Linked DNA regions of Homo sapiens: all the other regions are linked to region 1. The links come from fine-mapping of genetic effects on gene expression. A gene starts in region 1. Each other region holds a variant in brackets. All regions are shown on one strand. Distances are between the middles of the regions.

The links.
Region 2: its variant is fine-mapped to the expression of WASF1 in pancreas (GTEx, PIP above 0.99).
Region 3: its variant is fine-mapped to the expression of WASF1 in synovium (Steinberg 2020, PIP 0.95).
Region 4: its variant is fine-mapped to the expression of WASF1 in spleen (GTEx, PIP 0.97).
Region 5: its variant is fine-mapped to the expression of WASF1 in whole blood (INTERVAL, PIP above 0.99).

Annotation. Positions count from the first base shown.
Region 1 is chr6:110,177,486-110,182,593 of GRCh38, forward strand. It overlaps WASF1 (WASP family member 1), which reads right to left and starts at 2,185. Exons shown (of 11, transcript NM_003931.3): 1 at 1,954-2,185; 2 at 1,113-1,257. CDC40 (cell division cycle 40) reads left to right here and starts at 2,942. Exons shown (of 15, transcript NM_015891.3): 1 at 2,942-3,148. The coding sequence starts at 2,960. RefSeq lists silencers at 1,545-1,864, 2,105-2,214.
Region 2 is chr6:110,386,681-110,391,788 of GRCh38, forward strand. It overlaps DDO (D-aspartate oxidase), which reads right to left. Exons shown (of 5, transcript NM_001372108.2): 5 at 5,104-5,108. Among named protein-coding and RNA genes, the nearest start is that of DDO, 26 kb to the right of the region's middle. The variant G/A (reference allele first, on the strand shown) is at 3,142.
Region 3 is chr6:109,180,416-109,185,523 of GRCh38, forward strand. It overlaps the pseudogene CCDC162P. Among named protein-coding and RNA genes, the nearest start is that of CEP57L1, 87 kb to the left of the region's middle. The variant C/T (reference allele first, on the strand shown) is at 2,468.
Region 4 is chr6:109,971,629-109,976,736 of GRCh38, forward strand. No RefSeq gene overlaps it. Among named protein-coding and RNA genes, the nearest start is that of GPR6, 4.1 kb to the right of the region's middle. The variant A/G (reference allele first, on the strand shown) is at 2,470.
Region 5 is chr6:110,110,034-110,115,141 of GRCh38, forward strand. It overlaps WASF1 (WASP family member 1), which reads right to left. Exons shown (of 11, transcript NM_003931.3): 5 at 3,293-3,427. Among named protein-coding and RNA genes, the nearest start is that of WASF1, 67 kb to the right of the region's middle. The variant C/CAA (reference allele first, on the strand shown) is at 2,861.

The DNA of each region.
Region 1 (5,108 bases):
TTTCACAGAAATTTTTTAATCATTCATCAGCTAAAAGATTTAAATTTTCTTTAAAAGGACTACAAAAACACACCTTTCCTGAATTTATGCACACTACCTACTAAATATTATCTCCATTTACATATAAGGAAACCAAGGCACAAAGGTGTCCATTTTGTAAATTGCAAGGTCATTTCCTAACCAAGCAACTAATCCTACACCATCAACTTATATTATATGTACGCCACTTCCAAGTGCCATAAAACAATTACTATACCTTAAAACTGCCTCTGCAATGCTTATGTGATTCTCTTTTATCAAAAGGGTAAATGCAACAAGCTTAAACAAGGAAAGATGGAAAAGGAAAATTATAAAAATACAACACTTACTTTTTATAGTGAATCATTTATTTTTAAATAATGAGATGTAAACAGTTTTTAACATAAAAATCAAGTAACCAACAGTGGTTTCTTATATTTGCAAAAAAAAAAAAATTTCATCCTTCAGGTAGATCACGCAAAACTGAAGCCTACTCATACTTGTAGATTCAAGTTAGAAAAAAAAAAACTGGATTCTAAAACAAGTAATTAAATACATGATATTGCAAAGAAAAAAGTGAATAAAAAATAAAATCAGATAAATTAGGGAATGACTGATATGATGGTTAAAATCCTCATCTTAAATATTAAATCCTTCCATTCAATGGAAGGCAACGATTAGTAATGACATATTCTGCTACCGAAAAACAAATACAAAACTTTTCTTATTCAAAACTTCCGAAATTTTATATCAAATACTTCATTCAAATATTCAATATAAACAAAAATGTTTCCTAACAGAAACTTAGAGCATAAAGGATAAACTGTTCCTGAGAGTTCAAATTGAGACTGCATTTCTAATTATGATATAATGCTATGAACAATCAGAAAAATGAATGTTACCTACCATGCAAATTTAAATTTAAGAACATTAGACGGATTGAATAACCAATAAGTCAATTACATCAATTAGTGAACAGAAAAAAGACCTTAGCTAATCGTGAATCTAACACCAAAGAAAAAATTTAAGTCGAATCCACCGCACATCTTATTACATAGAAAAGGAAATGATTAGAGTAAGTCGTATTTAAGTACCTAGTCTAGCTGGGGATCAATTAATTAATCGGTTATAGGGCAGGACGTGAATGTTGAGATCGGATGTGCTTTCTTTCATCGTTATTCCAGTTCATCATCCGCAAGTGCAAGAGAAGGTGTCAGAGTACCGAAGCTAGGGGGCATGCTGTAGCAAGGGGAAAAGAAAAATGGGAAAGGTGCAATGGATGCTGCATAGTTGAATAATTATCTGGGTGGCACAATGGGCGAGTCCTGCCGACATGAGCGCTGAGTGAGCGGCTCCGTAACTCTGCCCAAGGCAGCCCCCATGAACAGGCACCAGAAGCGACAGCACCGCTTCGCCTCCCCTTCCAACGAAGAAAAGGATGCCCGCACTCGCTTTACCGTTATGTTTTCAGACACCGACTCGCGGAGCAAACACGCAAACGCACGAGCTCGCTTTACCGAGCCTCGCGCACGTAGGGCGAGCAGGGGATTCTCTGTCGCCCGGGGCTACCGCCTCCCCCGGAAAGAGGCACGGGGCGGACCGCGGGCGCGGGTGGGCAGGGAAGCCCGGGCGGTGGCACCTCAGGTGACACCCACAGTCTCTCCAGCGAGAGCAGCCCCGGGGCGGTCCCTGCAGCCAAGCCCCAGGCGCGCCCGCCGCCGTCTCCCTCGGCACCCAGCCCCGCTGGCGGGTGGGCGGTGGGCGCTCGGAAAACCCGCGGATGGGGGTGGGGGCCGGGGCGGGGAAGGCGCGCCCATCCATCCCCGTCACCTTTGCGGGCCACACACCACTCGGTCTGCTCCGGCCAGTAAGGAAGAGTTCCTCTCCCAACACCCCCTCCCCGAAAAAAGCAATTCCTCAGGGACTCGCGCTCACCGTGAAATCTTGGGGGCTCACGCCTTACCCCTTCTTCATGCTTCGGCAGCGGTCGCCGGTCCCCCTCGGCTCGCGGGACTCCGCCTAGAGCCCCCAGGAGGGTCGGGCTCTGGGGCGGAACCCGCTCAGGGCAGCGGCCCAGGCGCCAGGCCACAGGGAACGCCGCCTGGGGCGCCAACCCGCCGCCGGACCCACCGTGTGCTCGACGCGCGAGTGAACAACACCGCGAGCTGCCGTTCCCCCCGCCCCCTCCCCGCGCGAGACGCTCCACAACCGGGCGCAGGGACCCGCGCCAGAAGCAGGGGGGACCGCGAGACTCTTTCCGCCTATGGTCCCATCCTTGCCCCCCGCCCCAGGAGCTATTCCTGGCCAGTCAGAGGTCTCAAAACTTCAGATTCTCACTTTCCTCTTCAGCCTCCAGTGCCCAGGTGCAGCCGAGGTGGGAAATCCAGCCTCCGCCCACTCCCCCATTAGTGGGGCCGAAGCTCGCTCTTCCCCCCTTTCCTGAGGTTCTGTGGTATTGCCCAATCCTCAGTTTGGGGGAGGGGGACGAAGAGAACACTGCTTGGCTAGGGAATGAGGGAAGATGATAGCCAATTGAATGGAACATCCATTCGGGGGCGGGGTCAAAGGGGGACACGCCCCCGTTCCGCCCCCTCGTTGCAAACTACACTTCCCATTGTGCCCTCTCGCGCTTCCTGCCGCGCTGCACGCTGGGAGTGCAGGACCGCGAGGCCTCAAGGTATTTTGGAACTCATATTCTTTAGTCAACTAGGTCCTAAATGTTATAAACTATTATAATTCTCCCTTTTTCCCTAGATAAACTTTTTTAAGCTCTCAGCTCGACAGTAGTTATTCTAATAATAATTAGCTTATTGTTTCAAAATGTAAGACATTATTTCTTAGCAAAGAAAGTTAATGATGTGTTCCATTGCAATCTGTCAGGACCTGGGAGCCTCTTCTTCTTCCGCCCTGGCAGGGTCTCCGCAGAAGATTTGTTGCCGTCATGTCGGCTGCGATTGCAGCTCTGGCCGCTTCCTATGGTTCGGGTTCAGGGTCCGAATCGGACTCGGACAGTGAGAGCAGTCGGTGTCCGCTGCCAGCCGCCGACTCCCTCATGCACTTGACTAAATCGCCTTCATCAAAGCCGTCTCTAGCAGTGGCAGTGGACTCGGCTCCGGAGGTGGCAGTTAAGGTAAGCACTTTTGCTACTAATGCAGTGTGGGAATTGTTGGCTTCAGCTCCAGAACTGCCAGCCGCTTGTTAGGTACCGGGTTACCTCTTTCTCAGTGCTCAGAGATAAGTTGCTAACGTTTGAATTTCTTCTCCTTCCCACATGCATCCTCGGGAGAGGCAGAATTGGAAGTTCGGAATAGCCCTCCGATGCTCTCTGCCCTTGCCTCCCGCCATCAGAAAGCAAGTGGAAGGAGGGGATGAAATTTGAATTTGTGGATTAGGGACATAGCCTGGAAAGTGCAGGTGTAATCTCGGAACATAAGTGAAATTAGATCAGGACTTCCCAAACTAGAGTATTGTGTGAGCAGTGGCCTCGATTTGTCTTATTTTTGAAGAACTAGGTTCTAATCCTGGCACCACCACTTGTGTGAACTTGGACAAGTTATGCAGCCTCCTTTCTTTCCTCACCTGTACAGTGGAGATCATTTTCAAAACATCTGTCTACATGAAAAGATGAGTGTGAAAATTGAGTGAAATTACACAAATAAAGCATATAGCACAGAGCCAACTAGTGAGAGTGCAGTAAATGTTTTATGATTGTGTGTGTTAATACAGTGAGAAAAAGGCCTTGGATTTGAGAAACAGCTGCATGATCTCAATGGAGGAAGCTGATTAATAAGGCAAGAGTTTCCAGGCAGAGGTGACAGGCAAGCCTGAGAACGCAAAGAGCCTAGTGGGTTTGAAGAACTGAGGAAAAGCTGATGTGTCTGGAGCCTGATGAGAGCATCTACCAATTGGTAGTGTAGGCCCAGTAGAGCCCGAGGTAGGTGATCAGCTCAAGATGTGAAGAGGGGAGGCGGTGTCCAAAAATTCCTTTGTATCATGTCCCCAAGTCTAGTTTAATGACTTAAGAAGTGTTTTACAGGTTTTTAACAAGCTGTATGTGAATTTTACTTTTTAAAAATGGACATCTGTCATGAAAGAATGCTTAGAATCCTCCTAACTTCCTATCAAAACAAAACTTTCCAAACTTAAGCCCCTCCAGTAACCTCCTGAGTCTTCTCCTTTCACAGCTCAGCTTTTTGGAGCTCTCTTTTTGTCTTCGTCTCATTTTCTCCTCAACCCAATGCAGTCTGGCCCTATCCTCTTGGGAAACTACTGTCTGTGAGTGATGTCCCAGGCCTTCCAGTTGTCAAGTTCAGCCATCTGACTTAAATGTCTGCATCAAATGACACTGTTCATTAGTTCCTCTTTCTTGAAACTTTCTCTCCGTTTCGCTTCCATGGGGCTCTACTCAGCATTCTGTTCCAATTATTTTACTCTCCCTTTTCAATACTGGTGTTTCCCAGGACTCTGCTCTTAGTCCTCTTTGCATTCCACATATTCTCCCATACCTTCAACCTCAGGCTGTGCTGCTTCTAGCTCAAGGTGAACACCGTGAAATGGTTAGCACAGGCTCTGGAATTAAGACTGTAATTCAAATCCTGCCTCCAGCACTTACCCACCTGGGGACCTTGGATAAGTTACTTAAATGCTCTGTACCTAATTTTTGCTGATCTGTAAAGTAGGAATAACAGTAGTACCTATCTAACAGAATTATAATAATTGTCATAAAAGATGTAAAGCCCTTTTAACAGTGCCACACACAATGAACACTAATTAAATGCTTGCTATCCTTTTATTTCCAGTTCTATCCTCCTTGCTAGCTTACGATCTTGAGAGGTATATAAAAATCTCCCACAGTAATTGTACATTTGTCTTTTGCAGGTTGGCGCTCAGCCACCTCCAATTCAGTGTGTCGAAAAATTATTTTCTTTCCCTCAAAATCCACTTCTGTTTTTCCTATTTTGATCTGTCATCCCACAATCCACCCACTAGTTGAAGCCGAGAACAAAGAAGGTATCCTTTTCTCTTCCTTCTTCCTCAGCCCCTGAAGCTAGTCATTCAATTGATTCTAACATTGCTGTTTCATTAATTTC
Region 2 (5,108 bases), 210 kb after region 1:
GGCCAAGGGAAATTTTCCTCTTCACCCTCTAAAAGTTCACTGAAAATCAACTGATCAAAGGCAGATTAATAGGAGAAAAGGCATACAAATTTCTTAACATGCACAAGGGTGAATTAGAGTGAGTCCCCATGATCCAATGGGGTACAGATGGTTCTATACCCTTCTTCTTAGGGGAAAGGAAGATGGGGAAGTGTGGATGATTTTAGGGGAGTTGTAAATGATTTTTAGGGGAATTCAGTGGGTTTAAAGAACATATAATGGCCTGGGACAAAGTTGGTTGGGTCTGCTTAGCAGACAATGGTTTGGGACAGAAGTCTGTCCAGGTGTGTTGACAGACTTCAGTCTTTCTTCCTGTCATATGAGTTCAGTTCATGAAAACTCAGGGAAGGTACCAGAGGTAACTGATTTTTTTCTTTGGTGGTTTGGACTTCAGGCAGATAATGGAACTTCAGAGAACAGCTGCATCCTGTACTTTGGGAGAGACAGGATTGGGGTAGAGAAGGTCAGACAGACCTTGAGACTTCTTCAGTTCAGCATGTCAATGTGCCATATTCTGGGGTTTCAGTTTCAGAGCCCAAACACTGACCTAACTCAATTTATAGTTTGATACTTTTGCAGAGCCTACTAAAACCTTGACTTTTACATTGCCACCAAGACAAAAGACTACATTCCCGGCTTCCCTTGAATCTCAGTGTAACCCTGAGGCTAAATCCTATGAAGTGAAATACAAGCAAAGGTGTTATGTGAACCTTCTGGGAACTGTCCTTGGAGAGTGGATATAATGATGTGCTGGAGCTCTGACTGCCATCTTGGATGTGAGCACAAGGGCCACACCCTTGAAATAGCATAGTATGAGCTGGAAGGAGCCTGGATCACTGATGACCATTGGAGACCTCACAACAGCCCTAAACTGCCTGTATCTAGGCTTCTTTTATGTGAGTGAAATACATGACCACCTTGTTTAAGCAAATATTTAGGGGGTTTCTGTTACCTGCAATGGGGCCTAAACCTGACAGTTTCCTCTGCTCCAATAAGCTGTAACCAGAGAGGTAGGGCCTGAGGGATACTGCCCACACAGTGAATCTTCCAGGTCTGAGCAGATTTCCCAGGAAAGGAGTCCTGGGCAGAGCAAAAAGACCATGTGGAGTTTCAACCACACTGGTTGAGTTCCATTGACAGACGACTTGGATCTGCAAGGAAGAGAAATACCGGGATACATGAAAAATTGGGTCCTGGGCTCATACCATAGAATGTGCACCAGTATAAAAAAAATTATAATTCAAGGGGAACAGGCTCTGGGAGGTGGAATTGTGGGAATCATGGCTGCAGGCCAGGTTGACAGGTGCCTTGAGTAGATGGAAGTCAATTGTTCTGCTAATAATTGAAGAAGCATTGGTTATATTTATAAGAGATCTGGCTAATGCATTCCCTTTGGCTACTTAGGGCTGTGATTTATTGGCAGCAAAGTTACTTAGAATAATAAAACCCCCAGGCCTTGTGGCAAACTGCTGAGATTTTTCAAGAAGAAAGGGACCACTTAAAGATCTCAATTGGCTTTTCTTGAGTGAATGATATCCTGAGGAAGCAGGTTTCAAATGTGTCTCCATCATTCACACCCTTAAGAAGAAAAACGAGAGAAATAAAAAAAATGCTACATTTATTTCAAATATTTGACAAGTTACGAAAGTCCTGAAACAGGTTTCTAAGAACTACAACTCCCAGTGGACACATGTTCCACCATCCTTTTCTTCCTTTTTTCTAAAAGCTTTTAATTGATTGAGAAAAACCGGTTCAAATATCAGTTGATTTGAATGCATTATTCAATAAAAGGAAGAATATATGTCATTTTTAAAAATAGCCTTTCTTCTATACAACTGTGTCCACCTGGGCTATGGCCTTTCTGTTAAACTTTTTTTTTTCTTCCTAAGCAAATAAAATCCCAAAAGTTAAAAAAAAAATCCTAAAACTTTGTGCATAACCTTTGCCTGCTGAAGAAGCACACGCTGGCAATGACAGGGCTCAAAGCAGCCTCGTTCCTCTGGGTCACAGACACAGCAGGCAGACACTCAGCCACAAAGGCCAGACACTTGAAAGCAGAGATTTAAGAAGGAAATCAGTTGTTCTTCATGTTCAGAAAAAAATAAAAGATGTTCTGAAATAGAAAACAAGAAAGAAAAAATAAAGCAGTCTATTCTCAGGCAGTAGCACCGATTACCCAGGAAGACCTCAACTTATATAAACATTGAAATCTTTGAAGTAAATGAAGATAAGCTGTGATGGTTAATTTTATGTGTCAAATGGACTGAGCTAAGGGTGCCTAGCTAGCTGGCAACACATTATTTCTGGGTGTATATATGAGGATATCTTTGGGAGAGATAAGCATTTGAATCAGTAAGCTAAGTAAAGAAGATTATCTTCACCAATGTGAGTGGACATCATCCAATCTGTTGAAGGCCTGAATAGAAGAAAAAGGTGAGGAAGGACAAATTTGCTCTCTGCTTGAGCTAGGACATCTGTCTTCTCCTGTCCCTGGATTTCAGCACTGTGGCCTTCAGACTTACTCCACTGGCTCCTCTGGGTTTCGGGCATTCAGGCTTGGACTAGAACTGCATCAGCTCTCCTGGGCCTCCAGCTTACAGACAGCAGATCATGGGATTTCTCAGCCTCCATAATTGTGTGAGCCAACACTCATAAGAAATTTCTTTCTATATGTCTACATATGTCCCACTGGTTCTGTTTATCTGGAGAACCCTGACTAATATACCAGTCAAATGAGAAATGCAAAGGCTATTTCTTTAGATTTTACTATAGCAAGGGAGTCAGCCCATCACACTTACATTTGGCAGAGATTCAAAGGTAGGCAGAGGGGTGAGAAAGCTTCACAACAGAAAAAAGAGAAGACTTCACATATGTCCTGATAGGCATGGGGACACTGTAGGCAAGTTAACTAGAAGCAAAGCATCCTATATGGTTGGTCCTAAGTTAGAAGTGGGGGCAAGCATATTTTTTTTCTCTGATTTGTTCTAAGTTAGAGGTGGGGGCAAAAATTAGGGATGCTGTCAATTATTAATCAAGTCCTGGCCATTTTGTGTGAATTGTTACAGAAGTTATTGTTTATCTTTCTGGATTATTTCTAGAGAT[G/A]GCAATATGGCTTCCTGCAAGTCTGATATACTTGTGTAGCAGGCTGGCTTCCTGTGTTGTTTATTGTAGATAAGGGAATTGGTTTCCTGGGCAGGTTGCTGCAGCTTGTGGGCCAGAGTTCTATTTTTATATGTGGTCTAGCCATTGTCCATTTGTACATTCAGTCTGTTGTCTTTCAGATAAAGACAGATAGCTGTCTTGGAGCAGCTGACTGATAGCCAGCAAGGTGATTCCAGTATTTCTAGAGAGCTATTTTGGGACAGCTAATTCCTCTAGGCCACCTTGCCCAGAAGTGCCTAAGGACACACTTGCCTAAGTGAGCACATCCCTCTGAGCTCGATGCCCCAAGATGGCGAGGAAGGAAGGGAAGGATAATGGTGACGCTAGCAGTGGGGGCCTAGAAGGAGGGGAGGGAAGTAGTGCTCAGTGGTTCTCAGCCCTGGCTCTCAGAACTTTGTGGACAGCTTTAAGTAAACACTGATGCAGCAGCTCCGCCCCACCCACCAAAGATTCTAATTTCATAAAGCAGGCCTGGGCATCAACATTGTTTAAAAACTTCCCAGGTGATTCTAAGTTGCAGCCCAGGTTGGCAGCTACTGACCAAAATGAATAATGTTTCAGAGACACTGGGAACAATATTTAGCAATTAGTGAAAATGAAATCAGGGCATGCAGCCACAACCACTTTCTCAAGAAGCCTCCAGTCTTGCACTCTTGTAGCATTGCACTTTAGAAATATAAAACGCAGAGTGAAGCTGAACTAGAGTAACAAATAGGCAAAGGTCATAGAAGGTGAGCCCACAACACACAATAAAAATGCCACAGGATCTGAACCACAGGCATAGTGAACAAAGGAGTACACTTAAAGCTGCTTCGAAATGACTGAAATTCTACCTATTCTGAACAGTGGCCTTCATTTTTATTTTTAACTATTAAAAAATTATTTCCTCCTTTAAAAAATGCTGTTTTATCATAACCTTTTATTTCTCACAGATTATGTATGATGCATATGTGTTTCCAGTCTGTCTAAACTTATACATTTCTCAAATACTTAAAACAGAATTCAGAAGAGTTGCACTTGGAGTATATAAACTCCAAAACCTCAAAAGAAGCACGCACACTCTATATACCTGGTATCCATCTTTCATTTCTAGTCATTTCTAAATTTTTGAATGTACCAATGTATCTGAATCTGATACAACACCACCCCCTGGTGGAAATCTATAGAAAAGAGCCCACACTTGATTTTACTTGAGAATGTTAATACTGCAAGGAATGATTATGACTGCATAAAACACTGGTGGGCTTCTCTCACTGTCTACCAGCAGAATGTTCTCTGCAAACAAAATCATATGCAAGTTCTGAATGAACGCAACAGTAAAGCTGTAGCTGTGCTAAGAGCTTTCTCTTTCCCACACTTTCATTGGCAACCCTGTATCTCACTCAGGATGTCCAAAATATAACTTACTGTATCATTTAACAGAAGTCGTCTTCCCCAAATATTAAAATTAAATCCATTTCTCCTCAAGCCTTTTTTTTTTTTTTTTGAGACGGAGTCTTGCTCTGTCACCCAGGCTGGAGTGTAATGGTGCGATCTCAGCTCACTGCAACCTCCGTCTCCCGGGTTCAAGTAGCTTCCCGAGTAGCTGAGATTACAGGCACCCACCATCATGCCCAGCTAATTTTTGTATTTTTATAGAGACGAGCTTTCACCATGTTGGCCAGGCTTGTCTTGAACTCCTGAACTCAAGTGATCCACCTACCTCAGCCTCCCAAAGTGCTGGGATTGCACCAAAGTACTGGGATTGCAGGCGTGAGCCACCGTGCCCAGCCTCCTCAAGCCTCTTTACTTCAATACCAGCACTTCATTTTCCGTCCACCCAAGCTCTCTAGAGGATTCACAATACACGTGCACACATTAGAGGCTCTGAGTAGGCCTGAGTCAAAAAACAGGTTAAATTCATTTAA
Region 3 (5,108 bases), 1.0 Mb before region 1:
TATTCAACTCAGACTATCAAATATATTTATCTCATGTCCCCTATGTTCTATAGACACAATGAAGGGAAAACACTAATGTGTTTATCTGAACAATGCCTAGGGGATGATGAAGCAGACTTGGAAGGAACCCGGGCCGTTGAGTGCCCATTTAGTAGTGGGGCTGCTCTACAACCCCAGACCATTTACATTAGCACCATTAGGTTAGAGAGATTTAAAAGATCTTTTTTCTTTGATTGATTGATTGATTGATTGATTGGAGACAGAGCCTCACTCTGTCACCCAAACTGGAGTAGAGTGGTGCTCACTGCAACCTCAGCCTCCTGGGTTCAAGCCATTCTGCCTCAGCCTCCTAAGTAGCTGGGATCACAGGTGTATGCCACCATGCCTGGCTAGTTTTTGTATTTTTAGTAGAGGTGGGGTTTCACCATGTTGGCCAGGCTGGTCTCGAACTCCTGGCCTCAAGTGATCCACCCACCTCAGCCTCCCAAAGTGCTGGGATTATAGGCATGAGTTTGTTCTTTTAGCCACTGGTGATGGTGTCTTTTTGTTACAATGGCTTAGCCACACCCCTACTAATGCAGAAGCTGGCATGTAATGTATTTCATTTGAAAGCATAGATGATTTGAAAGCATTTGATGATCAAGATGACTACGTATCAAAAATGTTTACCCAACAAGGTTACAGAGTATCTATCTGTGCAGATCAATAAAGAGAATTGGATTAGCCCACAGTGATATGGGACCAGTATGCTTATCAGTTTAAATTCTGGCATTTGCTAGAATAAAAATAATTGTTTTATTTTGGTACATATCACATTATCAAGTTTTGGGAGCCTTTAAAACACTTGAAGCTGTGCTGATTTATGTATTTTGATGAGCTTAACTATTTACATTTATTATAATTACTGTTACATTTGAACTTAATTCTGCCATACTTCTTTTTGTTCCCCCCCACCACCACTTTTCTTACCTTCTATTGCAGGGGTCCCCAGTCCCCAGGCCATGGACCAGTACTCATCAGTGGCCTGTTAGGAACTGGGCCACACAGCAGGAGGTGAGCACAGGCAAGCAAGCATTACCACCTGAGCTTCCTCTGGTCAGATCAGTAGCAGCATTTGGAGTCTCATAGGAGCATGAACCCTATTGTGAATGGTTCATGTGAGGGATCTAGGTTGCGTGCTCCTTGTGAGAATCTAGCTAATGCTTGATGATCTGAGGTGGAGCAGTTTCATCCTGAAACCATCCCTCTGCCTGGCCACCTGCTGCTTCCCATCCATGGAAAAATTGTCTTCCATGAAACCAATCCCTGTTGCCAAAAAGGTTGGGGACCACCGTTTATTGGATTTAAAAGTCCTATCTCACCCCTTACTCCCACTTCTTTGGGAAGCTCTAGGATACATTTCTTTTTTTTTTTTTAATAGGTACGGATATTTTTATTTTATTTTTATTTTTTCCTATTTTTTATTATACTTTAAGTTCTAGGGTACATGTGCACAACGTGCAGGTTTGTTACATATGTATACATGTGCCATGTTGGTGTGCTGCACCCATTAGCTCATCATTTACATTAGGTATATCTCCTAATGCTATCCCTCCCCACTCCCCTCATCCTATGACAGGCCCTGGTGTGTGAAGTTCCCCACCCTGTGTCCAAGTGTTCTCATTGTTCAATTCCCACCTACGAGTGAGAACATGCAGTGTTTGGTTTTCTGTCCTTGCGATAGTTTGCTCAGAATGACGGTTTCTAGCTTCATCCATGTCCCTACAAATGACATGAACTCATCTAGATGCATTTCTATTCTTTTACTCATCACCTTGAAACTTTTAAAATAGTTACTCAGTATTTCTTTTCTAAACGTGTCTGCTTTATCCCCATCCAAGCCTGCTGTAACCACACATTGAACACCCCCAAACCTTGCTCAAGCTGATCTTACTATTTTTGTCTTAAATTTTAACCACGTTTTAAATGCATAAAAATTATGTATTATACATAATTATGAATTACAAATAATTAAATGTACTTATTTTTAAAAACATGATTGAAGAAATTCTCTTTTCTCGCAATCTCTTTTCTAAGACTAAATGAGTTCCCAGTGCTTGCCTGACACACGGTAGGTTCTCAATAAATGAAGCACACCTCCCATACCCCTCCAAATAAACAGTTGTCTCTTTAAACCTAGACATGAGTGCTCAGCAGGCATGTATTTCTCTGGGTTGGATTCATTTCATGGACAGTTGTCAAAGACTGACCCCTTTATGTTAATTTTCTGAATACTGTGCTTGACTGTGTTGCAAGCTAAACAGTACAGGATTAAATGTTCTCATTTCTGAGCTGTGAAGTGTTGAAACTGATCAAGAAATGAAGGCAGAATGTCCGTCCTTTGGGAGAATAATCAGCCAGTCTATGTTGCTGCCACTCTTGGCTGCCGATTGGAATGCAGCTGTTAAGGCAGCTGTTTAACTGTTTG[C/T]CCAACTTGAAAGGACACTGCCAAATGGCAAATATTTTCTATAACAACATTTTACTTTTGCTAAGAACAATAACAGTGCATTTTATTGAGCTCCAATGGCGTGCCAAACACGACAGATTTATTACTAGGCAGGTTCACAACCTGGACTGAACATGGATGCTCATTTCCATTTTTCATATATTTAGAAAAAGAATAAATGGGCTCCCAAAGGAAGCCTCTACACAAAACATCTCTACAGCTTAATTATTTGTTGAAATGACAGCATATTAACTTGAGAAAATGAAATATCTCAAAAGGAAAGATGAGAGTCTAGAAATATCACAGGAAAAAAATAAGGTTTAAGTATTTTAAATCTCTCTAATGTGGCCTAAGAGAGACTTAACTCATACTTGTCCAGGACAGGTGAGGGCAGCAGTAACACAAGGAAATACATCATCTGTTGAATCCCCTGCAACTTATGGGTCCCAGGACTTCTGAGTCATGCAGTTAATCTACATTGTTAATTAGAATGTTGATACTAAGTACTTAACAAACAATTATGTTGAATTTGACAGACTGTGAACCAGGTGAGGTGGGGTGGGAGGTTATCAGCTGTTATTTAATGGTAAAACCGGTATGCTAAATGTAGGCAGTCAAAATTAAGAAAACACATTCAAATGCGGAAGTACAATTTTCTATTAGAAGTCAGCAATAACTGCCATTCACAGAAGTTACTGTGTAATCCCCACAAACATTTATCAAGACTGCAGAGGTGAGGGGTGGTGGGGGGTGCATTCTCACTTATTAAACCCCACAGCCAAAGCTGAAGCAGAGATGTTTTTGAAGGTGAACTGGGCTAATCAAAGGCATGGCCAGTGGAGATTCTAACCTACTTTTTCTCTACTGTTTACTAGATGTTAATTAAATCACAAATGACAACAGTCTAATAGCAAAATGCATGCATTTCTACAAAGTTGACATGATTTCTTGGACAAAGATAGACAAAGTTCAACATGCTGGATAATGGTCACTGAGGGCATCAAGATTTGTGATCCTCTTTTTCAGGGATACAGAAAAACAGCAAATACAAATCATGGATGAAATTTATAAGATCACTTCCACAGAAAGGGTCCAGCTGTTGGAGAAAAAACTGGCTGTGCAACTGACTGAACTGAAGTCTGAGATAGAAGAGCAGGGAGCTCTTCAGGGAACAGCTAATCGAGTTTACAGGTAAATAGTGGCACTGAGAAGGTGTGATCTTCAGGGGCTTTACTCCCCACTCTCACTCCGTAATCTACATCAGCACCCTCTCTTCTTTTTACATAGACAATTGGCATTATCTCCAGTTCAGATAAATAGTATATAATAGCAGTTTCAGGTACCCATTTCTAACCTGATTGCTACCTCTAAGATTTTTCTATATTCTAGATTTGTTAAGACAGATCCAAGCAAAAGTCTTACCAAGGAAAATGTAAGTGTTTTTACATGTTAATTAATGCTATTGTCTTGAAGTTACAGGAGCTATAATACAAATCATACTCAATGAAAGGAGATCTCATTTTACCCAATAATATTTTAATTGAATTTGACTTTGATGTTGGTGAGAAATTTAAAAGCTGAAATAATGGTAGGCACTTAGTAATACATTATGCAAAACAATGTTCTGTGAGTGTTATCAGCACTCTGGATTCTTGCTGTCTCCCAGGATAGAAATCAAGAGAGATCACCAAACAGAGCAGCAGCAAAGGTAAGTGTATTCAGGTTGTGCACAAGGGAGCCAGCACCAAGAAAGGAAAAGGAAAGAGATGCTCTCCAAGGGTAGTGTGTGCGTTAGTTTTATAGCATCCTTTGATAGAGAAGGGTTACATCAGGGCACATATGGCGGGGTGCGGGGGGTGTGGTTTCTAGTGCTCATACAGTGGCTCAACATGCTTCTTCATACATCAAATGTAGCATTAGCATTTTAAATCTCCACCCAAGGCATTATTCTTAGCACAAAAATGAGGAAGGGGTAACTATAGGTTGAGTTTTAGTTCTAACTGCACCTGTGGGGCTTTGTGGAAGTCTCTATCCCCCCAAAGTAGGAACTTGCTGTTAATAACTCCTTGGGTCTTTTGTTACTGATTTGCTGAGAGTTAGGTAAGCTAGGGCTTGAGTAGGGGCTTCTGTTCTCCTCTAGAGCAGATCACAACAGGAAGCCAGCCAGCCTGTTTCATTAGGAGCTCTTCTATAGGTAAGTGCTGCCAACAACAGCAATCAAGTTATTGTAGAGAAACAAGAGACACAGATCAGCCCCTAATGGCAAGTCTCATGGACCCAGGACCTTCATATCCCTGTTTCTGATACTGCCACAACTGATCAAAAGGAGCAATATAAGAACCCTGTTAGGTTGAATCATTGAGAAAACACAATGTGGATGGTGAGAGGTTTGGAGAGGTCAGAAGATGCAGTAAGCAGGTGAATTAGTACTTCATTCCAAAGACAATTCTGAAGAACCAGCATTTCATATGTTTTTTAATTAGTATTTAAAACCATTAGGTGTCTGAAGCAAATCAGATTGTGTGATGAGATGGAAAGATCATGGAACCATGCAAGTCATAATTTCTCTCAATTTTGGTTTCTTTATTTGAAAAATGAGGTTAGTACCTTGCCTACCTACATA
Region 4 (5,108 bases), 210 kb before region 1:
GAATACAGACAATATTTTGGTGTCATTTTCTAGCACGATGTATAGCATATAGTTAGCACTCAATAAATGCTTATTGAATCAATGACTAGGCAAAGTATAAAAACATAATTACAATGCAACATAGAAAAGGTTGACAATAAAGAGCTGGGTGTGGTGGGGCATGCTTGTAATCCCAGCTACTCAGGAGGCTGAGGCAGGAAGAACACTTGAGCCAGGAGTTTGAGTCTAGCCTAGGCAACATAGCGAGACCCCATCTCTATAAAAAAGAAAAGAAAAGAAAGAAAAGGAAAGAAAACTATTAACAACATGCCATTTATTACTAAGTGAAAATTTGAATTGTAAACTGTATGTATAGTACACTGCACACTATGCAATAAATCTACATGAAATATATATACATGTGGATAAATTTTGGAAATAATCATTCAAGAGACATTTATTTAGCACCTACTTTGTGCCAGATAATAGTAATGGAAAGATTAATTAGAATTGATCCATCCTCTCAAAAAGTCTACAGTCTTGGGGTGGTGGTGGGGGTGAAGCAATCTTGTTTAGCTGATGGGAATATTGGGAAATGATTTTCTTTCAAAATTCTCTTTAATTGTTCAAAGCAATACATTTAAAAAACAGCTTGCAAACAGAAAACAGTCTATCAAATGCTGCTCATAGTAATACTGAAGTTATAAAATTCAACCTCCATTATCTTGGATCCATCTATCCACAGTAAATCCTCTATGAGTTTTTGAGTCTGCCTACACACTGTTGCACACTTTGATCCATATTTGTTTTTGCTTCCCCACAAGATTGTCAGTCTCATGAACACAATGGATTTGTCTGATTAAACAGGTGCTGGGCAGCCCCTAACTGGCTTAATTTTGCTATCTAGTTTAAGGGTGGCCTTTCTTTTCATACAAAGCAGAAACATTGGGGTAAGGTGGGGTAGGGAAAAGTCTATGCTAGAAATGGAGAGGAACCTTTTTTGAATTACTCAACCCCAAGCCCCTGCTCACCTGCCCTTCAGGGAAACTGAGGGGAGCTGAGAACTGTGGCAAGGGGAGGCACCTTTCCTACCACATGGGGAAGCCCTGACCACATGCCCAGTGTCCTGGAGGCCAGAGTTGATGATAGTGCTGCTCCATTTTGCATGGTTCATCAGGCCTCACTTGCCCTCTTGGCCCAGACAGGGACAGAAAGAGAGGCAAACCTGCTACTGGGGGCCTGATGGCCATGCCAGGGAAGGGTGAGGGAGAGGACCATCCTGTTCTTTCCATCAACAGCTCCAGGACCTGTCATGGTCCCTGGCAAATGGCAGCCCTTAGTGAGTATGACGCTGGTGAAATGAACCAGATCAAGGCTCAAGTCTCCTGCTAGTGCCCTGTGTAACTGTGGACAACTTCACCTCTCTGAACCTCAGTTATCCCACCTGCAAAGATCATAACTTCAAACTCCATGTAATTGTCTCGAAGAATAAAATGAAATAGTACGGAAGGAGCTTCAAAGCACTTTGAACATGTAGGGTCTATTTGAGGATGCAGGGTGGGAGGAAGGGGAGGAGCAGAAAAGACAACTATTGAGTCCTGGGCTTAACACCAGAGTGATAAAATAATTTGTACAACAAACCCTGTGATAGGAGTTTACACATGTCACAAACCTTCACATATACCCCCGAACCTTTTTTTTTGAAAAAGAGAGAGAGAGAGAGAGAGACTCCAGCCTAGGTGACCCAGTAAGACTCTCTCTTTCTCAAAAAAAAAAAAAAAAAAAAAAGGTGGGGGGAGCCAGAGACCTTAACAGACACCTCACCAAAGAGATATCCTCATGGTACATATGCATCTGAAAGGATGCTCCACATTACATGTTATCAGGGAAATACAGATTAAAACACAAAAAGAGAGAGAGAGAGAGAAAAGAAAATGGGGGGCATGGCAGGTTGGAAGACTGCCTCTGTGTTCATTTTCAAATACACTAATTAATAGAAACAACTTTCTCATTAACATTCTCATAATCAGTAAAGTTGGTGCTCTAAGTTGTAATAGTATACATTCCTTCATAAACTCAATAAAGTTATTTTCACTCTTTATGAAAAAAATACATATGCCTTTAAATGTTATGATTTATTTCTCATGCAAAATAATGTTCATTAAGTGAATTAAACCCCAAATCTCAACTTTCCTGCAGTGTTCTGCATCCTGTGGACATGTGATGATAATAATGGTGCTTTGCTCCTTATCTAAATTTGTGGGGAACATTAATTGATGCTGAGCTTCCAGGATAGAAGCCCTTTGGAGTGGGGACTGCCCACCTGGCATGAGGGAGGTAGGAACATCCCCGATGTGTCTGGACATGCTGAAGAAGTAGGTACCATAGAGCACTGATGCCTGAGGATGAGGGGCACCCCTGGGGACAAGCAGAAACAGAAAGAAAGGAGATATTTTTAATAGAATTCATCTTCCTCAGCATGTGTCCCCA[A/G]AAGATTACACTCCATCCAACACCATGGATCTGGACAAACAATGTAGTGTATTCAGTGGCCCTTTGTGATTTCTGTCTCTTGTAGCAACAATCTTTCTTAATAAACAGCTTCATACATCTCACCAAGCACTTGCTGTCTTCCTGAGATGTCAGCACAAGCACCTGGATACCACCAGATAGACTTACACTTCCCAGTTGAACACTATACTGCTTATCCCCAAGAATCAAGAACAGGGAGCGTGTGTGTGTGTGTGTGTGTGTGTGTGTGTTTGTGTGTGTGTGTATGCGCATGCAGATGCCCAGAGAGAGAGAAAGAAAGAGACAGAGAGACCAGAATTTCTTGCCAGTGTGGGTCTTTTCAACGTAGTTTTGTAAGGTTCTGGACAGCTTGGCTGGCTGCAGTCCTGATATTATGAAACAGAATTGATTTGCAAGGATTTGAGCCAGGAGAGGGCACACCTGGGAGGCAGCTGTGAGATCAGCCAGAGCAAGGGTGCAAATGCTGAGGTATCTTGAAACCTACAGCAGAATAAAGGGTTGGGACAACCTGAACCAGAGCCAGAGTTTAGTGCTCCCTAATGGGGCTATTGAATTCATCAGGGCCAAGAGAGAACCATGTGCCAGCCTTTATCTTGAGAGAGGAAGGAGGTTCTGTGTGTATATGGAAAATTAAAGGTCTGCAGAGGAGATGTAGTGAATGTGTTAAACCTGAAATTACACAATGATTTAGAGCTGGATTCTCACTGAAATTTCTTTATTGCAACTATTCCAAAAAGATATCCACTATTTCAGGAGTTTCACTACACACTAAACTGACAAAGGGATTGTTTAGATGAGTGTTCTCAACCCTGAGTTTTCTTTCGGGTCTTTAGAAAATACCCACTCCAGACAAAATGAATCAGAATTTCTGGGTGAGGGATCCAAAGATGGGTAGTTTTAAAAACCCTTCCATGTAATTCTAATATGCAGCCAGGATTGAGAACTGCTGGCTTAGGCTGAGATGGGAATGAGATATCAAAGGAAGCTAGAGAAAGAAAGATTGTGGTTGAAAGGCTCTGATTCCTGGGCTTAGCCTCAGACAAGAAAAGTGTCCTCATGTTTATGCTTAAATAGTGCTAGAACAGAAAGAAGCAAGGCACCTCAGCCTGTGATAAGTTGGTCAAAGGGTTGGCAATAATGAATTTAATCTGTGACTACCAATCAGAAGCCAAACTCTGAAGACCCCAAAACATAAACAAAACCAGACAAGCTGGTGGATGAATAATACATTTGGTTGTATGTTTCAGTCAATGATCAAGGATTCACAGAATAGAAACCATTCAAGGTAGCGCAAGATTAGGAAGGTTTGTGGTAGAGACCCAAAATGTAATTTCAAGGCATCAAGGGATTTGGGCTCCCAGAGCCAGGAACCAGACACTCAGGGACTGAGGTCACTCCTTTCACCTCTTGGTCATTTGATCTTCTTCATCTCTGTTCCTCTTCACACATCTGCTTCATTCTTCCAGAGCAGTTGGCTTTCTCTGATTAAACACTTCACACAAGGTCCAACACACAAGTGGTTCAGCTCTAATTTATCACTGTCTTTCATGTCCAGAGCCCAACACTGACTCACCGTTGTTAACGTGTTTCTTAGTTCAAATTTTCAACAGAAAAGGATCTGGTCACTAGCCCAGCAAAGGATGGCTGATCGTATCTAGCTTCAGTTGAGGTGTCAATCTCCTCCCATATACTAGGGTATGTGTGGAAAATTTCATGTAGTTTACAGGCTGAACACTTTAGGAGACCATTGGAAGGGCAGGTGCTTATATAGTAGCTATAGGCAAGGCAAGTAAAGAAGTCCATCTAATTTCCATCCATAACTGATGAAACAGACATATTTTGCTTTCCCATCTTCTACCTTCCAAAATATGGGTGGATATAGGGGAGATAAGGAGGAGTTTGAAAGAACATGCTCTGTCTGCCCAGGACCTAGTCTAGCATCCAAAAGAGGTAACCACAGATTGGCATCACTCAAAGTCAGTCTACATATCCTCAACCATCATTTATGTACATGATTCTACATGTGTTGTCTTCCTCTGGAAATCACTGAGAAATCCATTCTTGGTAATGTTGAAGCCTAAGGATATTCAGAGATCCTGTGGTAGGTTCAATTTTAACCTCATACTTTCTGCTACATTGTGGCATGTGAAAATGGAACATACTTAGATATTAAGGAGGATTCTCCTCCCCTTGGGCTTTTATCTGATCATTTGGAAAATCCTCAGTTAACATGCTGTTACAGTGGTTTGACGGCTCACTTGACAGCTCTGAAATAACATTCTTGACTCTTAGATGACAATCTTGTACCGAAACACAAAACGGCTCTTTTCAGAAATTTAGAACTTCAGCCAAGTTTTGGGTTCAAGAAAATAGTGGTGTGTGGATTTTTTTAAGCTCTCCAAATGGATAAATTGTGTGTAAACTCACTTTCTGTCCAACATCAGCTATTGCACCAAATAATTGAACTGTCATATGTCCCTTGTTCTTGTAATTAAGTTGGCTGCATTGAGGCAGGAATAGTCTGGACTTGGGGGTCATGTTTAAAGGCAGCAACCTAGGGTAAACTTATCCTCCAACCCATGGACAGTCTGAATATCTTT
Region 5 (5,108 bases), 67 kb before region 1:
CTTATAAATACTAAAATAAAATTCAGAGAAGCAAAAAGTTTTTCCCCACTATCACTAAAAAGTGGCACTGGAGATACAGTATTTAATGAGTACATACTATATGTGCTAGATGGTTTCACTAAATTTCATTTCATTTAATCTTTACAATTCAGTAAGACAGGAATTATTACTCCATTGTGAAATATAAGAAAGCTAAGGCTAGGAAATAGTATATAACTGACCTGAGGTTAAACAGTTAATAAACAGCAGAGCCAGAACAGAAAAGTCAGATCTGTCTACCTTTGAGGCTAATCTTTTTGCCACAATACCACACGCTGTTCTCAGGCTCCTGCCAGAAGTGGGTTGTGTTTTCTGCAGTCAAAGTGGATCAATTCTTGCCACTCTCCTGCCCCACTTATTAATCAATAAGTATGTAATTAAGATGAAACCTAGTGTTTAATCTCGCCAAACTTCCTTGGTAAAGGATGTAAGAAACATGTAAACTAATAAGCATGATGTACTTTTCTATCTTCAACTCCTCTCATTTATCGTTTGTCTTATTATTAACAGACTATTGTGGTGAAGCTCCTTCCACTTGCCAACAATAACATCTGATATTAATAAAATAGAATTATAAAGCAATAAATTAGCATAATGCTTATAAACATAATTGACTTAAATATAATTGTACAAGTCTTTGTTTAAAATTCATTTAAAAAATATTTTCAAAATTGATAGTTTTTAGTTACTACAAAACGGTTAAAAAAACTGATACCACACTGTGCTATTTAGTACTGTACACATGATGTTTTTTTTTTAATTCCCACTGAATTAAAAAACCTAGGTTAAATAACTGAAAACTCCTTCAATACAACCTCTCCAAAACAATTTCAAATTAAGTAGTTCAGCTTTTAGATTCTGAATTCTTCCCCCACTGCTCCACAAAATTTTAAAGGAAACTAGGTATAATTCTGACAGTATAGCTGTTGACATATTAAAATTTGTTTTTTAACACAAACATCTTAATTTATTTACTGTTATCTGTATTTTCACTTTCAAGTTTAATGGTGGCTCTAAGACATTTGTTAAAATGTAACAATATTTTGAAACTAAATGTTGATTTTTATTTCTGTTACATATGAGAACTGCCTGTGTATTTCTCTATTATTTGATGGCATAAATTTATATTTAAGTGATAAGCAGTTGAGTTATCTGAAAAACAAATTTTGGCTATAAATTATGTATTTGAAAGCATGACCATAAAATATTTTTCACCACTAACAATGATTTTATTTCAAGAATTCCATGAGGTGTAATTAATGTATTGATACATGCACATGTTTCAAAGGATACCACCAAGAAAGACAACCTAAAGAAGGGGAGAAAATATTTGCAAATCATATATTTGATAAAGGATTTAGATCCAGAATATACACAGAATTCCAACAAGTCAAAAATAAAAACACGAATAATACAAATTATAAATGGGCTAAGGAATTAAATAGACATTTCTCCAAAGGAGATATTCAAATGGCCTGTAAGCACATGAAAACATACTCAACATCATTAGCCATCAGGGAGATATAAATACATGCTATATGAATGAACCTTGAAAACATTATGCTAAAAGAAGCCAGTCACAAAAGACCACATACTGTACTATTCATTCATATGAAATATCCATACAGACAGATCCATACAGACAAATCCATAGAGGCAAATCCATACAGACAGAAAGATCAGTGATTGCTAGGGGTTGAGCTGAAGGGGAAACAGAGTGACTGCTAATGAGTACAGGGCTTCTTTCTGGAGTGATACAAATACTCTAAAATTGATTGTGGTGACGGTTGCATAACTTGAATATACTAAAAAACACTGAATTGTACACTTCAACTTTAAATGGGTGAACTGCAAGGTATACGTAGGTTGTGAAATATATCTTAATAAAGCTATTTTTTAAGTATTATTTCCTTTTCTTCTTGTATCCAGAGCTCTGAGTTTACATTTTACAAGTGGTACAAATCTAGTATGCCAAGTATTTGCCTCTCCTTATTTACACATTGGATTATTTCAAAAGTAGCTGGTTCCATCACTAAGACATCTATCATTACATTATATTTTTGTTCTTTCCACTGACATCCTTTAGTATTTTTATTGTTAAAGTTTAGATCTATTATATAATTTGCATTTATACTAAAAATTAGATCTATCATATAATTTGTGTTTATACTATTTAATGCAACAAAAATATTTTGAAGAGAGTGTAAGAAATTCCATTAAACAATTCTCTGTGGTAGGTAAGTGCAAATTATGTTCTTAGTATTGCATTTCTTTTTGTGAAACAAACAAAAAGATGCATTTGGGAAACGTCGGCATTCAATGTATTCTATCAAGGCATAAAACATGATTTTACCACCGAAGTTTCTACAATTATTTTAGCCTATCTGATTATTCCTGATTTAATATCTTGGTATAGAATGTTTACACCCTACATACTGGCAATTTGTTTTTGAAATGTTCATTTAAAGTAGGAAGTTGCATTCAGTTAAATAACTAATAAGACTTTAGCAATATGCACATACAAAAGCATATTAAAAGCAGTTACATAGCCAGGTGTAGTGGCTCATGCCTATAATCCCAACACTTTGGGAGGCCGAGGTGGGCAGATCACAAGGTCAGGAGTTCGAGACCAGCCGGACCAACATGGTGAAACCCCATCTCTACTAAAAATAAAAAAATTAGCCAGGCGTGGTGGCAGACACCTGTAATCCCAGCTACTCAGGAGGCTGAGGCAGGAGAATTGCTTGAACCTGGGAGGTGGAGGTTGCAGTGAGCCGAGATTGCGCCACTGCACTCCAGCCTAGTGACAGAGTGTCTGTCT[C/CAA]AAAAAAAAAAAAAAACAAAAAAAAAACCAGTTACATTCTTGTAGAATCAAACCTAAAGATTTCAGGTAATTTTCTAATAATTTTTATTTCTAAGACAAAAGTATACAAATAAATTATAAGGGAGAAATGAAAAGAGAAAGATAATGAAGAGAATGGAGGAAAATGTCTGGTTAAAATGACTTCTTTATGCAAAAAAATTAGGAGCTGTTTAGTGTACAAAAAGAAGAGATTTAAAACAGAGTAGAAAAGAAAAGCCCGGAGAATCATACTGATGGCATTTTTAGATAATTCACTGATTTATTACAATATGTACACCAAAGGACATGGGTATGATCTGTAATAAATTCATGATTAATACTGTTAAGTATATCATTCATCTCATCTAACTTAAAATATATACGTAGAAGAAAATACAATATTAATAAGCTTACATTCTTCTTCCTTTGGATCAAGCTGTGTAACACTAACAGATAAACGGTCCACACGTTCTTGCAATGAGTTGACTCTGAAGGAAAAACTATGTGCTTCATTGAATAATTCTCCAAATATATCTTCAGCATATTTACCTAAGCAAAAATGACACATATATCATAAAATTTAACATCCAGAGCACTGAGTTTTTATCTTTGCAAGCAGTAGAAATCTAGCATGATATTTGCCCTCAGATACTTTGTGATCAGAGATAAATAATGAACAATGTAATATTACAACTGGTGACCTGTTGAATTTGGAATTTATTTGGAATTACAGTTGACCCTTGAACAAAATCGTTTAACTGTAATAGTCCACTTACATGTGGATTTTTTTCAATAAATACATTGAAAATTTTGGAGATTTGAGACAATTTGAAAAAACTTGCAGATGAACCACATAGCCTAAAAATACTAAAAATTTTAAAGTATATTTTAAAGATATGAATGCATAAAATCTATGTAAATACTAGACTATTTTATCATTTACTACCACAAAATATACAGAAATTATAAAAAGTTAAAATTTATCAAAATTTACACACAAAACAAAAACATACATAGTGCCATTCACAGTCAAGAGAAATATAAAGAAATGGAAAGATATATTAGGTTGGTGCAAATGTAATTGCAGTTTTTGCCAACCTAATAGTACTAAATCATAACAATAAATTTAAGTGTAATACTGTATTACTGTAACAATTTTATAGCCACCCTCTGTTGATACTGCAGTTAGCTCTAGTGTTGTTACTATCCACTTAAAATGCTGTTTGAGCAGTTCTCTCTCCACTAAATTGCATATAAGAGTAGGAAGTAATCTCTCATGGTTCTTGTGTATTTTCCATCATGTTTTATGCAATACTGTAAACCTTGAATACATTGTGAGACTCATTCAAAGTGCCACCAGTGATGCTGGAAGTACTCTCAAGTACAAGAAAGTCATAACACTACAAGATAAAGTTGAATTGCTTGATATGAACCCCAGATTGAGGTCTACAGCTGTGGTTGCTTAGCATTTCAAGATAAATGAATCAAACTTAAGGGCAATTATAAAAAAAGAAAAGGAAAATCATGAAGCCATTGCTGCAGATACACCAGCAGACACAAAAACCTTGTACTTTTTGCGAATACCTTTTAATCTTGTATCAAAATGCAATTTTTGTGGGTGCATGGCTGTTACAAGAAAGCATACATACAGACTCTAACATGATTTGAGAAAAAGTGAAGTCCATATATGACAACTTAAAGCAAAAGGAAGGCAAAGGATCTAAACCTGGAAAATTTAATGGCAGTAAAGGATGCTTTGATACTTTCAGGAAGAGGTTTGGCCTCAAAAATGTCACAAGAGAAGCTGCAGCTTTTGTCAGCCAAGAGGCAGCAGATGAGTTCCCAGATGCCATTAAGAAAATAATTAGTTTCCATGTATGCTGCTTGAAAAAAAAAAAAAAATTGGCCAGGCATGACAGTCTGTAATCCTAGCACTTTGAAAGGCTGAGGTGGGCAGACTGCTTGAGCTCAGGAGTTTGAGACCAGCCTGAACAACATGGTGAAACCCCGTCTCAACCAAAAATACAGAAATTAGCTGGGCACGATGGTATGTGCCTGTAGTCCCAGCTACTTGGGGAGGTGAGGCAGGAGGATCACTTGAGCCTAGGAGGTCGAGGCTATTGTGAGTCGTGATCATGCCACTGTACTCCAGCCCAGCCTGGGTGACAAAGTGAGACCTTCTCTCTCTCTCTCAAAGAAAAAAAAAAAAACAAAACAGAAAAGAAAAAGA